Homo sapiens: one gene and its partner. The protein of the gene in region 1 interacts with the protein of each later gene in a biochemical or structural test. Each region holds a gene or a part of one and is shown in the gene's direction. Other genes may lie near its edges.

What was found.
Region 2: the proteins of ITPR1 (region 1) and RHOA form a complex in vitro, tested with the Homo sapiens proteins (one study listed by BioGRID).

Annotation. Positions count from the first base shown.
Region 1 is NC_000003.12:4,678,248-4,681,982, forward strand, and holds part of ITPR1 (inositol 1,4,5-trisphosphate-gated calcium channel ITPR1), read left to right. Parts: intron 1-2,305; coding exon 2,306-2,444; intron 2,445-3,116; coding exon 3,117-3,171; intron 3,172-3,735. UniProt on the Homo sapiens protein: Inositol 1,4,5-trisphosphate-gated calcium channel that, upon inositol 1,4,5-trisphosphate binding, mediates calcium release from the endoplasmic reticulum (ER).
Region 2 is NC_000003.12:49,405,262-49,408,996, reverse strand, and holds part of RHOA (transforming protein RhoA isoform 1 precursor), read left to right. Parts: intron 1-2,190; exon of another isoform or gene 2,191-2,285; intron 2,286-3,735. UniProt on the Homo sapiens protein: Small GTPase which cycles between an active GTP-bound and an inactive GDP-bound state.

The DNA of each region.
Region 1 (3,735 bases):
AGAGAAAGATTCCTTTTTTAAAACTTTATTTTTTAATAAATTTTATTTTTACTTTTATTTTCAATTTTTTTTGTCGAGACAAAATATACATATAAAATTTGCAGGCCATGGTCCATGTGTTCCAAAGTGGTGTCTTGGACGTTTATCAGAAACGACGCAGTGCAAAACTTGGTCACATCTTGAGGTCCACTCACCGTGGTGACCTAAGAAGGATTGGTCGATTGAGTCATTCTTTCCACGGGTACTTATTGACTCCCTACCATGTGCACTGTGAGGAATGCAAAAATGATTCGAACAGGGGCTCCATCCACAGGGGTTTATAGTCTGATGGGAGAATAAGGTATGATGAAGCTGCGTGGATGTGGAAATAAAACCACCAGAAAGTTCTTCTGAGACTGGAGTCCGGGAGTGGGGTCATGTGACTCCACATGGTAAAGATCAGAGAAGGGTTGATGGAGGAGGTAGGGTTTCATCTGAGCCTTTAAGGTGCATGGGCTTTGTACATGGAGAAACAAGGGCCCGTTCTCAGGTGGATGGAGCAGCCTGAAGCCGAGTACCATGGGATGCAGGTCAGTGGGCAGTTCTTGCTGAGCAGAGACATAGAGTGTGCTGAGGGGAAGTTGTCAGAAGTGAGTTTGGAAAGGAGGACCAAGCCACACTGCACAGAGCTTTGGGTGTCTAAAATGCTAAGGCTTATTCTCTGTTGAGCCTTTGAAAGTCTTCAAGCGGGAGCTTAACATAAGAACAAGTGGTTAGGAGGCTGATTTGGTGAATTTGGTTCTGTAAATGGAACAGGCAGGAGATAATGAGGCCTTGAGCAGGGAGAAACGGCAGTAGGGGAGAACTCTATGAGAAGCGGTAAATGGAGAACCACCAGGACTTAGTCTCTGATTAGATGTGTGTCCAGGAAGGAGGCGCTGATGATCAGGCAACTGACTGAGGTTGAGGAAACCCAGGCAGAAAGTAGATGAAGGCAAGACTGACAATGTTAGTGTGTTAGCGCTCTCCAGAGAAACAGAACAAATAGGATACATACAGATAGACAAGAGGGGGTTTATTATGGGAATTGGCCTCACGCAGTTACGGAGGCCGAGAAGTCCCCCAGTCTGCCACAGCAAGCTGTGTCCCGGGAAAGCCAGTGGTGTGATTCAGCCTGAGTCCCAAGGCTGAGAACCAGGGGAGCTGAAGGTGTAACTCTCAGTCTGAGGCCAAAAGCCGGAGAACCTGGAGCTCTGATGGGCAGGAGAAGATGAGTGTCCCAGCTCCAGAACAGGTGGATTCGGTCTTCCTCCACCTGTTTGCTCTATCCAGGCCCTCCGTGGATTGGATGGTGCCCACTCACACTGGGTGAGAGCGGATCTTCTTTACTCAGCTCACTGATTCAAATGCCAGTCCATTCTGGAAACCCCCTCATAGATTTACCCGGAAATAAAGTTGTACAAGCTGTCTAGGTGTCCTTGAACCCAGTCAAGTTGGCATATAAAATTAACCATCGCAGTTACTTTTGTGAAACACTGAGTTTGAGGCCCTGGGAAGATAGCAAATAGGATGTCCAACAGTCTGTAGGACACATACACTGAGAGCATGGAGGCAGGCCAGAGACCTATCTCCCTCTGGAAGAGGTGATGGCCACTGGACTGGGAAAGGTTGCTGGGAGGCTAAGCAGAGACAAGGGGAGAACGGAAGGAAGAACGTGAGTGAGATCCCTACATGATGTCAGCTGCTCAATCTTTCTTTTTGGTTCTAGCAGCAATCCTGGGAAAAGTGACCCTGTGTTGGAATAAAGGGTGAGGGAATACAGGAGGCAAAAGAAGAGGGTGTCCAAGGGTTTGTACCCAAACCAGGGGAAACAACCAGAAACAGGAAATAGGAACCAAGCTAATTTTCCATAGTAAAAAACAAATTTTTTTTTGTTAATTCTCTTAAATCCAAAGCAGGCAACTTCACTCTTTTCAGTGTTAGGCCCAGAGTTGACATTCAATACTTACTGAAATGGAGTCTTGTTTTATAGACTCCATTTATGGAGCCAGGAGTGAGTGATTTAGTGTTCCAATTGTTAAATTAATTGCCAGGATGCTGAAGCTTACACTAGAGGCTAAGGTGCTATGGGCAGACTTCATATGCCCCATGGAAGTCTGCTGTTGTTAAAATGACTGTTGAAATCTAAGCCAAATACTTGGCTCACTTAGTGCTTAAGGTAATTGATGCAGCTGATACCAGGCCCCGCCAGTGTGTGGTGGCTTGGCAGAGTCAAGATGGTATGTTAATGTAACCAATCTGTTTCCATTTCCACTTGAATCTTTAGTTTATTTTGAATGTGAGGTTGGATTATAGGATCTCCTGCCTCCTGTGTATATTTAAGCGAGAGTTTGATGAAAGCAATTCCCAGACTTCAGAAACATCCTCCGGAAACAGCAGCCAAGAAGGGCCAAGTAATGTACCAGGTTAGTGATTCAGAATGGAATTTCAGCCATAGAATGGGACCTGGCTCTAAGGAAAATGGGGAGAGCAAACAGTATCTTCTAGAAAAAGGGTGAAAATGGTTTTGAGGATTATTGCACCAGGGCATCATCCTGGCAGTTACTCTTTTTGAGCAAGTGAATAATTGATAGAGCCCAGATTCCTTCTGGGTTGGATCTTGTTTCCTTCCATCTGGGAGTGTCTTAGTGATGAGACAGTTGAGGTTTCCAGCATTGTGGCTACCCACCTCCCCCGCAAAAATACCAAAATAAAAACAGTAACAAAAAACTCTCCAGGAGACTTCTTGACCACTAGCAGCTTTTACTCACTTTGGAAGTTTTTCCCTGCCCAGGAACTAGTGGTGACGGGAGATGGTAGGAGTAGAAATAATCCCATCTACCAAGCCCAAGCTTCCATGAGTGAGATCATTGCTGTCCTTTACCAGGGGACCATGCAGTGAGGGAGGAAGGGGCAGGAATGTGGAATATGTGGTTAATGTCATCTGGGTTAGTCACTCTGCATAGCTTTGCAATATAATGTTCTGGGAGATTTGGGGTTAACTCAACAGCTTTACCCTGCAAAACTTATGGATGAGTTCACCAGCAGCATGTTTGCAGACCTTCCTGCATCTGAAGTGGTATGTTCTAACTTTTCAGGTGCTCTTGACTTTGAACACATTGAAGAACAAGCAGAAGGCATCTTTGGAGGAAGGAAAGTATATTTTCAGTTACTGTTTTGTAGGGAAGGCTGCTCTTCCAGAGCTCTCAGAGGCCTTCCCTTTATTATGTTAGTAAATATTTAGTCTCTGGGCTTAGGTTGTTTTGGTGCTATCTTTGGAACTGTTAGTACTCAAGTCAGAGTTAACTTGGTTGGCTTGATTGGGAGGAGAGAGAGAGTGAGAGAGAGAGAGAGAGAAAGTGTGTGTGTGTGTGTGTGTGTGTGTGTGTGTGTCCCACCTAGGACAGAAAGGATTTAAGGAGATTTCTCAAAATACCTACATTACAAGATTATTTTTACATAGTGAGGAAATGCAATCAAAAGAAGAATAGAAAGAGAGAGGGGCTCAAAACAGAGTGAAGTTAGTAAGATCATGTCCTGCTGCTGCTGCTGGGCTACAATTTTATCCCTGAGCTCCTTACAGGCTATGCAACAAAGAAAGCAAAATCTGGTCTTTCATTGTTCCTAATATTAATGTATGAACCCCTTTAAAAAAAAACCGCACTGGTCAATTTTGACTTAAGACATTATTATAATTATGGAACTCTTATACCTCCA
Region 2 (3,735 bases), about 45 Mb from region 1:
CGGTGAAACCCCGTCTCTACTAAAAATACAAAAAAAATTAGCTGGGTGTGGTGGCGGGCGCCTGTAGTCCCAGCTGCTCTGGAGGCTGAGGCAGGGGAATGGCGTGAACCCGAGAGGCGGAGCTTGCCGTGAGCTGAGATCGCGCCACTGTGCTCCAGCCAGGGCAACAGAGCGAGACTCCGTCTCAAAAAAAAAAAAAAAGGATCTTAAGTATTTTGTCTGACTCTGCCATTTAGTTTATTCCTTTGTTTACCTGCCCAATGGAACTGTTTGCTTGTAACTACACATTAATATAACTAAATTTTGAACTTAATGTTACATGCCTTGCTATACATGGGGCTCTTTGGGGACATGCTCATTTGTGGGATTAAAATTTCCAAGACGGTTTGAAGTTTGTAATTACTATAAAATCCCTCATCTTTAATCTGTGGAGCTGTAGTATTAAGTGAAGGCCTTGGTATGTTCATAATTACGATAGTCATGTGACTGAAAATCAGGCACTGAAGCTGCTCGTTCTGGGTGTTGGTCTCAGTTTATTGATGCTTCATCCAAATACATTTTTATAGCTAATAATAAAGAAAAACATCAAATACTCTTGCTAAATTGCAATCAGTATGCAGTTTATGCCAAACTTAGCTTGATTTTATTTTTTGAAGAGGATGAGTATGTATATTTAAGCATATGTGTGTGTGTGTATATGTATATATACTTGTGTATACGTATATACGTGTATACGTATATATATGTGTACATATACGTGTATACGTATATATATGTGTACATATACGTGTGTGTATGTGTGTGTGTATATATATATATTTTTTTTTTTTTCTCTTTTGAGACTGAGTCTCACTCTGTCGTCCGGGCCAGAGTGCAGTAGCGCCATCTCGGCTCACTGCAACCGCCGCCTCCTAGTTCAAGTGATTCTTGTGCCTCGGCCTCTGGAGTAGTTGGGAGTACCAGCATGCGCCACTGTGCTCAGCTAATTTTTGTATTTTTAGTAGAGACGGGGTTTCACCATGTTGGTCAGGCTGTTCTCGAACTCCTGGCCTTGTGATCTGCCCCCCTTGGCCTCTGAAAGTGTTGAGATTGCAGGTGAGAGCCACTATGTCTGGCCATATTTAAGCATATTTATGATAGTATCTTAAATTTAAGTGAAGGGAAAGAGGAAAACATACACAGCCAATGAAGTAAGTTTGAAGTGGAGTGAAAGGAAAAGTTGGAGGTAAAAAGAGGTTAGAGAGGTGGGCAGGGGCCAAATCATATAGGGCCTTTAGGACATGGGAAATTCTTTGGATTTGTTCTGAGATTAGAAGTCATTTAGATATTCTTTAGAAAGGGAATGACATGATCTGATATTAAAAAAAAAACTAGAATCACTGTGAGTAGGAGTAGATCTAATTCCATTCTGACTAAATAGTAAACTAATATGATAATTTGGACAAATATAAAAAGGAATTCCTGGCTGGGAGCAGTGGCTGATGCCTGTAATCCCAGCACTTTGGAAGTGCTGGGCAGGTGGATCACTTGAGGTCAGGAGTTTGAGACCAGCCTGGCCACATGGTGAAACCCTGTCTCTACTAAAAATACAAAACATTAGCTGGGCGTGGCAGCAGGCGCCTATAATCCCGGCTATTCAGGAGGCTGAGATAGGAGAATCACTTTAACCTGGGAGGCGGAGGTTGCTGTGAGCAGAGATCGAGCCATTGCACTCCAGCCTGGGAGACGGTGCAAGACTCAAAAAAAAAAAAAAAAAAAAAAAAACGGAAAGGATTTCATAATATTAATTTCCTTGACTTAGTGACTTCTGCCTATTTTATTTGAAGTCATTGGTTCTTCTCTTCTCTTCTCTTGAGACAGGGTCTCACTGTCACCCAGGCTGGAGTGCAGTGAGTGATCTTTGTTCACTTCAACCTTTGTTTCCCAGGTTCAAGCGATTCTCGTGCCTCAGTCTCTAGAGTAGCTGGGACTACAGGTGTGTGTGTGTGACCATGCCCGACTAATTTTTGTATTTTTAGTAAAGACGGGATCTCACCATGTTGGCCAGGATGGCCTTGATCTCTTGACCTCGTGACCCCGTGACCCACCCACCTTGGCCTCCCAAGGTGTTGGGATTACAAGCATGAGCCACTAAGGATTTGTTTTTAAAATTTTTTTGCTTTATTTTTTTCTTCTCTTTTTTTGTACTAGAGATGGTGTCTTGCTATGTTGCCCAGACAGATCTTGTACTCCTGGGCTCAAGTTGTCCTCCTGCCTCAGCCTCCCAAAGTGCTGGGATTAAAGATGTGAGTCAAGCGATTCTCGTGCCTCAACCTACCCACTAGCTCGATTACAGGTGCCATCCACCACCTGCCCACCACCCTTGGCTAATTTTTGTATTTTGTATTTTAGTAGAGACAAGAATTTTACCATGTCGGCCAGGCTGGTCTCAAATTCCTGACCTCAGGCAATCCACCCGCCTCAGCTTCCTGCTGGGATTACGGGCGTGAGCTACCCTGGCCAAGATTTTTAATTTCTGAAGCTTATAGCTGCTCTAAAGCACAAGGATTCAGTCCCATGATTTAAAAAAGTTGCTTGTTTTGACTTCAAGTATATGGTTGAGCATTCTAACTTTTGTTATGTATACATTTTTATTTTACTGTATTCTTCTAGCCATTGTATCCTAGTCTGTATGTTGCAGATGAGTTGTGATTCTCTGGTGTCTCTTCCATGGACCTAGAGATCATATGCTCTACTACTGGGATTTTTTTTTGTAACTTTGTTTGGGATATAGGCTTTGAGAGGTTAAGGAAGTAAATTTAAGATGGATATTTAATGTTGTAACACTTTGTTAATGCTTTTTTCTACAAGATAATTTTATTATGTGATATGGCAGCTTTGTTGGAAATACCTGTTTTTTTGTGTGTGTGGAAAATTTCTTTTCTGGATGAAATCTCTTGTTTAACTTTTCCAGTTATTCATAATGAAGCTCTGTTTATCTTTTGAAGATCTTAAGTTCAGAAACAGAAGGCAGGCTGCGTATGGTGGCTCATGCCAGTTATCCCAGCACTTTGGGAGGCCGAGGTGGGTGGGTCACCTGAGGTCAGGAGTTCGAAACCAGTCTGACCAACATGGTGAAACCCCATCTCTACTAAAAATACAAAAATCAGCCGAGTGTATTAGTGAGTGCCTGTAATCCCAGCTACTCGGAAGGCTGAAGCAGGAGAATCCCTCGAACTTGAGAGGCGCAGGTTGCAGTGAGCCAAGATTGCTGCACTCCAGCCCGGGCAACAGAGCGAAACTCCGTCTCAAACATACACACAAAAAAAAGAAGGAAAGAAAAGGCAGTAGAGTATCTTATTTAAGAGCATGGATTCTGGAGAGAAACTGACAGTTAAATACTAGCTCTGACACTTGATGGCTTGAGACCCTTGGCAGTAGTATGTCTCCTTTGTAATTCAGTTTTTTTCTTCTGTAGAAAGGGAATGGTAAGGAAGCGCCATGAGATTTCAGTGAGAGAGAAGCACTTACCTCAAGTGCCAGACATGTAGCCCTTCAACTAACTTATTTTATTTATTTATTTTTTGAGATGGAGTTTTGCTCTTGTTGCCCAGGCTGGAGTGCAATGGCGTGATCCCAGCTCACTGCAACCTCCACCTCCTGGATTCAAGTGATTCTCCTGCCTCAGCCTCCCCATTAGTTGGGGTTTACAGGCATGTCACCATGCCCAGCTAATTTTTTTTTTTTTTTTTTTTT